Regions from separate parts of the Homo sapiens genome. Here region 1 is reported to be linked to region 2. Evidence: microRNA targets listed by miRTarBase, many of them from high-throughput screens and not tested one by one. Region 2 holds a microRNA gene; the other region holds the end of a gene's coding sequence.

Region 1 (4,283 bases), not on the chromosome of region 2:
GGGCAACAGAGCGAGACTCTGTCCCCCACCCACCTCCCCGCCAAAAAAAGTATTTTAAAATTTCCCTCCCCCTTCCAGGGGAGGCTAATTACTCTTCAGAGCCAAGATCAGGATACCTCATCTAATATTTGTTTCTTGGAATTTGTGAAGATCTCTGTTAATATTTTTTGTTTGTTTTTTTGAGATGAAGTCTTGCTCTGTCACCTGGGCTGGGGTGTAGAGGCGCGATCTCAGCTCACCGCAACCTCCTTCCTCCTGGGTTCAAGCGATTCTCCTGCCTCAGCCCACTGAGTAGCTGGGATTACAAGCGTGTGCCACCATACCCAGCTAATGTTTTTTATTTTTAGTAGAGACGGGGGGTTTCACCATGTTGGCCAAGCTGGTCTTGAACTCCTGACTTCAGGTAATCCTCCTGCCTCGGCCTCCCAAAGTGCTAAGATTACAGGCGTGAGCCACTGCACCCAGCCGATCTCTGTTAATTTTCACAAATGTTCCATGTGCGTTTGAGAATGTTAGAGTAGGAGGGGATAATAGGGTTTGTTAAATATTTTTGGCCAAGCTTATTAATGATGTTAGTCACATCTGTATTTTTTTGACTACCTGATCTGTTGCTTCTTTTTTTTTTTTTTTTTTTTTTTTTTTGAGACGGAGTCTTGCTCTGTCACCCAGGCTGGAGTACAGTGGTATGGTCTTGGCTCACTGCAACCTCTGCCTCCCAGGTTCAAGGGATTCTCCTGCCTCAGCCTCCCAAGTAGCTGAGAATACAGGCTCCTGCCACCATGCCCGGCTAGTTTTTTGTACTTTTAGTAGAGACGGTGTTTCACCATGTTGGCCAGGATGGTCTCCATCTCCTGACCTCGTGATCTGCCCGCCTCAGCCTCCCAAAGTGCTGGGATTATAGGCGTGAGCCACTGCGCCCGGCCTTGATCTGTTGGTTTCTAAGAGACATAGTCCTATTCTTCCCTGAGCTGGGTCCCTGGTGTCACTAAGATCACCCCTTCTCATTCCTGGAACTTCCCTGAGGTCATAGGGGGCTCTTTCATCCTATCTCTGGCTCCTGTGGGTGGCTTCTATGCCCAAGCAAGAAGTGACTCAGGCAAGGGTATAGATACAAAATGGCTCACTCTCCATCCCCAGGGATGTGATTCTGGCTCAGTGCATGGATCTGCTCATTGAGTGGCCTAGGGGTGGAGCAGAGTGTCCCCAACCTGTTGCTTCCCTCCACGGACTCAGTTCTTCCCCAGGGCACTTCGAGAAGGCAGCACCGTGTGATGCTCAGGGCTGCGGGTGAGATGGGCTGGGGTACGAATCCCAGCTCCACCTCAAACTCATTGTGTGCCCCTCCCTGAGCCTCAGTTTCCTAATATGTAAATGGGGATTTTTTTTTTTTTTTTTTTTTTTTTGGAGATGGGAGTCTCATTCTGTCGCCCAGGCTGGAGTGCAATGGCATGATCTCAGCTCACTGCAACCTCCGCCTCCTGGGTTCAAGTGATTCTCCTGCTCCAGCCTCCTGAGTAGCTGAGATTACAGGCAGGTGCCACCATGCTTGGCTAATTTTTGTGTTTTTAGCAGAGACAGGGTTTTGCCATGTCGGCTAGGCTGGTCTCGAACTCCCGATCTCAGGTGATCCATCTGCCTCGGCCTCCCAACGTGTTGGGATTACAGGCGTGAGCCACCGCGCCTGGCCAAGGGGCTGGTAACTTCTATCTCAGAGTGTCTGGCCCATGGTGAATTCTCAGTCATGGTCACTTATTAGAATGAGAACACGAGGCAGCCCCTACAGGACCAGGGCTTGGGTTCAAATCTTGGCCTGGCCACTTCATCGGTGTTTTGAGTTTTTTTTTTTTTTTTTTTTTTGAGACAGTCTTACTCTGTCACCCAGGTTGGAGTGCAATGGCATGATCTCAGCTCACTGCAACCTCTAACTCCTGGGTTCAAGCGATTCTCCTGCCTCAGCCTCCTGAGTAACTGGGATTACAGGCGCCCGCCACTGCGCCTGGCTAATTTTTGTATTTTTAGTAGAGTTGAGTTTCACCATGTTGGCCAGGCTGGGTTTCACCATGTTGGCCAGGCTGGTCTCAAACTCCTGACCTTGTGATCCACCCGCCTCAGCGGTGTGTGGTCTTGGACAAGCACCACCACCTCTCTGGGCCAACTCCTCCTCTGACTGTTCACACAAGGAAACGAGATCAGCTCTCCAGGACCCCACCGACCTCCACCCCAGGGATGAAACTGGACAGGCAGGGGCGCAACAAAGACTCCACAATGGGCCGGGGTCAGACGATCTTCCTTTAATACAAAGTCGATATATCTACATACACGGGGGTGGGAAAACCACCCGGCTGCTTCCGCTGGAATAAACAGTGTTGAAAGTAACCGCAGACCTGCCCTTGTACAAAGAGGAACAACTCGCTTGCTCAGGGTAGGCGGGTAGAGGGGGGCCTGTCCTTCTGGTTTTGCTCCCAAACTGCCCCACAGTCCCAGGGGGAAAGGGTCCCTGATGTGGGGCAGCACAGCCATACAGCCACTGTCCCCGAAGAAGTAGGATCCTCTCTGTCTCCTTGGGGGCGGGAGACGGGGAGACAGCTCAGGCTCTCAGAGGAGGACCACTGTCATCTCTCTCCTCTTACAGCAGCGTCCCCCTCAACCGCACCCAACGCCACTGGGTCCGAGCTCCCCCATGACCTTACCCTCAGAACTGTATTTGATATGTCTGAAAATTTAATTTATAAAAATGAAACAAAAAGGGGGAAAAAAAAAGCCAAGAAAGAAAAAAGGACATCCCATTCTTCTGTGAGCAAAGCACACTTTCTGATGGTAGGAAAAATTAAAAAAAAAAAAAAAAAAAAAAAAGCCAAGGTACAGCCATGGGCCTGGCGTGCGCGTTTGCGAACGTAACTATCACACAAGGACGCTTTCTACAGTGAAAAAATAGACTGTCTTTGAACAGAATATGAATAAGCCAAAGTTAGTTCTCTTTGAAAGTCATTGACTGGCGAGTCTTTTGTTTGTTTCTCTTAAAAAAAAAAATGGAAAAAAAAATACACTATTTAAAAAAAATGAAATGTCACGGGATACAGTTACACTGAGAGTTTTAAAAGAAAGCTGGATTCTGGTCCCAGCCCAGTGTCCCCAGGCTGCAGAGCGGGGAGGAGCCCCCCGGGTCCCCCTACCACCGCTGGGGGAGGACGAGGGGTCCGTCTATGGTCTGTGCCCCACCCTCCTCTGGTTCTGGGGAGCACTCCTATTTGCTCACCATCCCCCCACCCCCCACCCCGGAATCTGGTTTTGGAATTGGAAGGAAAGGAGGAATGTGCCAAGTATTTGAAGGCGGCGGCCGGTGCCAGGGAGGTCGCTGGGGCGGCCGGGGCCGGTGGGGGGGCTCGAGGGGCTGCGTCGTCCTCGGAAATGGTGCAGAAACACAGCTGCTGCCGCTGCCACCTCCTGCCCTGCCCACTGGGGGTCCAGGCCTCAGGAGGTCCGCCCGGGAGGGGCAGAGGCATCCGGGGCCAGTGGTGTCGGGCCTGGGGGGAACCATGGCTTTAGGTTGCATAGTGGTCAAAGCTTCCGAGGTACTCCAGTGCCGCCTGGTAACAGAACTGGTACTCATCCTGGGGGAGCAGAGGTGACCTGTTAGTACCTCCGCTGCTCTAACGCCTCCCAGGGCTCCCTATCGCCCTCAGGAGCAGGCCAAGCTCCTCAGCCTTGTGCGTGTCTCTTGCAGAAGGTCTCTTTGGCCCCCACGGCCCTCCCACAATGAAGTGAGCTATGCCACACCTCTCTGCCTAACACAGCCAGGCTCTTCACCCGGAACGCCCTCTCCTCCCGTCTGCCTGGAGGCCCTATTCATCTTTTCTTTTTTATTTATTTTGAGACGGAGTCTCGCTGTGTTGCCCAGGCTGGAGTGCAGTGGCGCCATCTTGGCTCCCTGCAACCTCTGTCTCCTGGGTTCAAGTGATTCTCCTGCCTGAGCCTCCCAAGTAGCTGGGATGACAGGCGTGTACCACCATGCCCAGCTGATTTTTGTATTTTTAGTAGAGACAGGGTTTCGCCATGTTGGCCAGGCTGGTCTCAAACTCCTGACCTCGGGTGATCTGCCTGCCTTGGCCTCCCAAAGTGCTGGGATTACAGGCATAAGCCACCACACCCAGCCTCATTTCTATTTTTTTTGTAGAGATGGGGTCTTTCTGTGTTGCCCAGGATGGGCTCAAGCGATCCTCCCACCTCAGCCTCCCAAAGTGCTGGGATTACAGGTGTGAGCTGCCACGCCGGGTCCCCTCTAC
Region 2 (4,527 bases):
AGTGAGGCTGGTGGAGGGAAGAGCCCTGGGTTGCTTTGCTGTGTTTGCTGTGAATGCGATGTGTTTTTGCGAGTTATGTGAGGTTCCCTCCTCTTTGAATGCCAACTTGTGCCTTCCCCCAGTGGCTGGGTCTGTGGCTTAGCCACAGGGCTAGGTCCCTTCCTGGACCCAGTGCTTTTCAGGGTGGGTCCCTGGGGGCAAGGACAAGGTTTACCACTCCACTGGGACACTTGAGGAGAGGTTAACTCCTCCATGCGGACTCCTTTGAGGACAGCCTGTTTTCCTCTCAGGGTGGCTCCCTGGATGAAGTCCAGCACCTCTGTGGGTGTGTGAAGGGCAGGCCGACTTGGGCTGTGTTCCCACTCCTCACCCAGGTCACTGGCCCAGTGCCACTTCCTCCTCAGGTCAGCTTCCCTCTGCCAGCCGACCTGGTGGGGTCTCCTGGTCCATTGCTTGGTGCTCATAGACACTGGCACGGTGCCAGGTTCCCTTCACTCCTTCCCGATGGAGACCATGCAGCTAATGAATCTTCGGCTCTGTGATGCTGCCTTGGAGGGCTTCCTGCACACAGCACCTGGTTTGAGAGGAGAACACGGACTCCAGCGTGTCCCCTGGTTATGGAGAAGGGAGGCTGTCCTTGATCCCCCGTTTGGTGGATGATATAGTTTGGCTGTGTCTCCACTCAAATCTCATTTTGAATTCCTTTGTGTTGTGGGAGGGTCCTGGTGGGAGGTAATTGAATCAGGGGAGTGGGTCTTTCCCTTGCTGTTCTTGTGATAGTGAATGGGTCTCATGAGAGCTGATGGTTTTATAAGGCAGAGTTTCCCTGCACAAGGTCTCTGTTTGCCTGCTGCCATCCACGTAAGACCTGACTTGCTTCTCCTTGCTTTCCACCATGACTGTGAGGCTTACCCAGCCACGTGGAACTGTAAGTCCAATTGAACCTCTTTCTTTTGCAAATTGCCCAGTCTTGGGTATGTCTTTATCAGCAGCCAGAAAATGGACTAACACAGTGGAGGGCAGTGGCACCAAGCCCCGCCCCCTTCAGGATGTGGTCCCTGTGTGGGGCAGCATCCTGGAGTGGCTGCAAAGCCCCACTGCTCTCTGCCTCCGTGGCTTTGTCCTATCTGAGGTGGCCAGTGCGCTGGGGTCCCTGTGTGGAGTCAGTTCTTTATGGGTGCCTGCAGGTGCCGGCTTCACAGTAAGAAAACTGTCAGCTTCGCCTGAGGTATGGGCACAGAGGTGACGCAGGGATATGAACTTTGTTGACGAATGTGTTCTCTGCACAGCTAACCCAGAGAATTCATTCCACCCTCAGGAGAAGCCCTAGAAGTGATACAGGCTCTGGCCGGGGGACCCGATGTGCTCGTGTCGCGGCGTGGGGCTTGGTGAGGAACCACCGGAGTGCTCTTGCATTTTTCATGACAAAGACCACACAGTTGGCCTCATTCCTGCACAGTGGGAGAATGTGTGGAGGTGTCCCGCCACCAGAGAGGAGGTCTATGTCAGCACCATCACCAGGTACCTGGGGGAGGGTCTGCTGACGATGCCCAATGTTCAATGGCCCAAGCAACCCGTCCTTGGGGGACTTCTGGGCAAGACCATTTCGGTGCTCAGCCCCACTCCGTGTCCCAGGCAGAGAGGGGGCTGAATTGATGATACCTATTAAATGGGTCATTAATTCTCATTATCCATGCAGCCTGCCCATGAGGGTCCCCCAGAAGGGAGGGCAACTCCGGGGAAAGGTTCTGGCCATCAGCACGAGGCCACGATCCAGGAGGTGCTGCAGAGCCAGAGGCCACAGGACAGATTATCAAGCCAGGTCACAGGCTTTCTCTGTCCTTGACCCTCAGCATCCAGGCTACCTACAAGAGGAGGCAGGGGGACTCCTCTGACACACCTGGGGAGGTCTCGTCAATGGCAGGTTCCCTCTACAATGCTTTCTCTGCTGCAAATGCAACTCAGCATCACCTCTTTCCTGGATATAATTCCAAGGAATTATTAAAGGAGGCATTGGTGTCAGCACCTCGTGAAATACTCGTAAGGATGACCCATGGCAGAGCCTGTGTCTTCATTGGAGTAAGACTCACATGCTGTGGCCTCCAGGCTCTGGAGGCCTCGGGGGCAGAGCAGGGTTGAGGCTGACCGTGGGGCCTCGCCTGGGTTTGTGGCTTATCATATTGGACCACTGTTTTTCAGGACAAACTCCCCGGAGATGTCCCCTGGCAGGACCCTGACCTGGAGGCAGGGTGCTGTCCATGATAGGGGAATGGATGGTTGATCAGAGAACGTACATTTTATAAATGGTGTATGTCAGTTGATCCACAGTCCCTACCTATCCAGTGACTTCTGGAGGCCACATCAGCTCAGAAGACAAGGTGGTGGTTTCCTAGGCCATGCTATTTTCTGGCACTTGAAAGGACCTTCTCCTTGCCGGGTTTGCTTTCTTTATGCCCAGTCTCATGAGGGAGTGCCTTTTTTGAGTATGGATCTTGCTGGGGAAGCTTTCTGGAAGGAGCTGTTGCCCTTCGTCCCTCTCCAGGGGCAAGAATGCATGGTTGGCTGGAAAGCAAGGGCTTGATTGACATTGTGCACCCCTCAACTCTCCTAACCCTCTGTCCCCAATTCATCCTCAGGCGGACTAGCTGGAAGGAAGGCAGACTCTGGTGAAGACGTGGGCCGTCACCGTCAGCCTTCGGTACTTGAAGAGTGGTTATCCCTGCTGTGTTCGCTTAATTTATGACGAATCATACAGGGACATCCAGTTTTTCAGTATCAAATACTGCTTTGGAAGGCTTCCCGGACAGCGTCCCGCCTTCAGGCAAGGGGTCTTGGCTTCACCTCCCACCCAAGGTATGTATGTGAACGGGCCATCGCAGTGCACTAGCTTCTTCATGTGCCACAGCCATGACCAGAATCGAATCTCTGAGGAAGATGGTTACTTCTAAGGCTGTGATTTTCTGGAAGGGGCTTTGGTGTCTGCACTACATTATTGGGGGAAGTTGACCAGTGAGAGGCCCATTCACACAAGACGTCTGTCACCTGCTCCAAGTGACCCTCACCCTTGGTAAGATGAATCTCTGGAGACATGCTGGCTCGGTAGTGTTACTGTCATCAGCCGGACTGACTGATAGGTAATTGGTCATCATTATTGCTTTTGTTCCAGGGCAGAATTTTTGAGTGCCAAATCTTGCCAGGGAAGGGTTTCTGGAAGCAGCACCGCCCTCTGGGGAGACTTGGCATCCACATCTGTTGGAGTTTGTGGAGAGTTAGTTGAGCAGTCTGAGCTTTGTTTCTGAGGCGTCTCCCTGAGCTCACTCTCCTGCCAGAGCTGTGTCCTGCCCATGGCCATAATGGCTATTGAGAGGGTTGGTGACTTTGGCCACCATGATTTTGTTTCGATAAAGTTCTCTCTTTTTAAAAAAATCAGATTCTTTTGTTTATAGCATAACTACATGGTTCATGAGTTGATCAAATAACAAGGAATGACTTGGTCATTCCATAAATAGTGATGGAGTGCACACTGTGTTCTAGGTGATTCTGGACCTTAGCAGAGAGCAGTGAATGAAATCAAGTTCTTGCTCATGTGGACTTTACATTCTGGTGGAAGAGACGGATGAGAACACATGAATTAGGAAGCGTAATTTTGTCCACTGCTAGGTTTTATGGGGAAAGGGAAAGCGGGTTACAGTGACAGAAAGAGGTAAAAGCAGGTGGACCTTTGTGTTAAATACAGGGGTCTGGAAAGCTCTCTCTGAGGATGTGGGTGGGAATGGAGTGGGGTGGACCAGAGGAAGGTCTGGGGTAGGAGCATTTCAGGAGGAGGGCAAGGCCCATGGAAAGCCCCCTGGCATCTTTAAGAAAAAGCAAGAAGGCCAGTGGGATTGAACCGAGCTGCTGGGAGTCGCTGGGTCTGAGCTGGGAGAGGCAGGACTCCAGGTTTTATTCTGAGTGAGATGGGGGATTTGGAAGGGTTGTGAGCAGGGGGGATGCGTGGTCTGTGTTGGAAAGATCACTCTGACCACAAGGGCATTGATAGAGAATCTACCCAGGGCAGTGATGGGGAACCTACCAGGAGCCTGGCGTGCCTGAGCTGGGCAGTTTCTCTAGGGGCACCTGCAGTGGCAAAAGGGGGCCCCCTCTGGACCTCCCTAGTTCAGTGGGCCCTGCGGGAGCCTGGCTGGCACCTTGATGTGCTTGATGGATAACTCAGTGTGCTCTGTTGAGAAGTCCAAGGCCCTGTTCAGAAACCCTGGGGTCTACACACTGCGGAGTGCTCCTGGCGTGTGACAAGTGGCTTCCCTCTTCTTATTTCTAAACCTTGTGCGTGTGGATTCAGGACCACAATTTCAACTCCAGGGAAGGGGGACTGTGCCAGCACCACTCCAAGGGAGGTGAGTGAAGGGTTGCCCAAACTCCAGTGTGTTCCTAGGACACCCGTAAGCTGCCTCACTAATGCTCGGTGTCCACTCTGTCCACAGGATGGTGGTTGGCAGCCACTCCCCTTGGAGAAGTGGAAGGGGACTC

The links. The annotated mature microRNA hsa-miR-487a-3p reads AAUCAUACAGGGACAUCCAGUU and lies in region 2 at 2,746-2,767, shown strand. An mRNA with a match to its seed (bases 2 to 7 or 8) in the 3' UTR can be bound and repressed. Matches are read on the target gene's strand: a 7mer-m8 pairs with bases 2 to 8, a 7mer-A1 pairs with bases 2 to 7 and ends in A, and an 8mer does both.
Region 1: the mRNA of PTPRS is a reported target of hsa-miR-487a-3p. The part of its 3' UTR that is shown has no 7-base or 8-base seed match.

What each region holds. Positions count from the first base shown.
Region 1 is chr19:5,203,232-5,207,514 of GRCh38, forward strand. It overlaps PTPRS (protein tyrosine phosphatase receptor type S), which reads right to left. Exons shown (of 38, transcript NM_002850.4): 38 at 2,277-3,611. The coding sequence ends at 3,543. Among named protein-coding and RNA genes, the nearest start is that of PTPRS-AS1, 28 kb to the left of the region's middle.
Region 2 is chr14:101,049,749-101,054,275 of GRCh38, forward strand. It overlaps MIR487A (microRNA 487a), which reads left to right and starts at 2,698; the gene lies at 2,698-2,777. It overlaps MIR381HG (MIR381 host gene), which reads left to right. Exons shown (of 3, transcript NR_104192.1): 2 at 1,319-1,521; 3 at 1,854-2,047.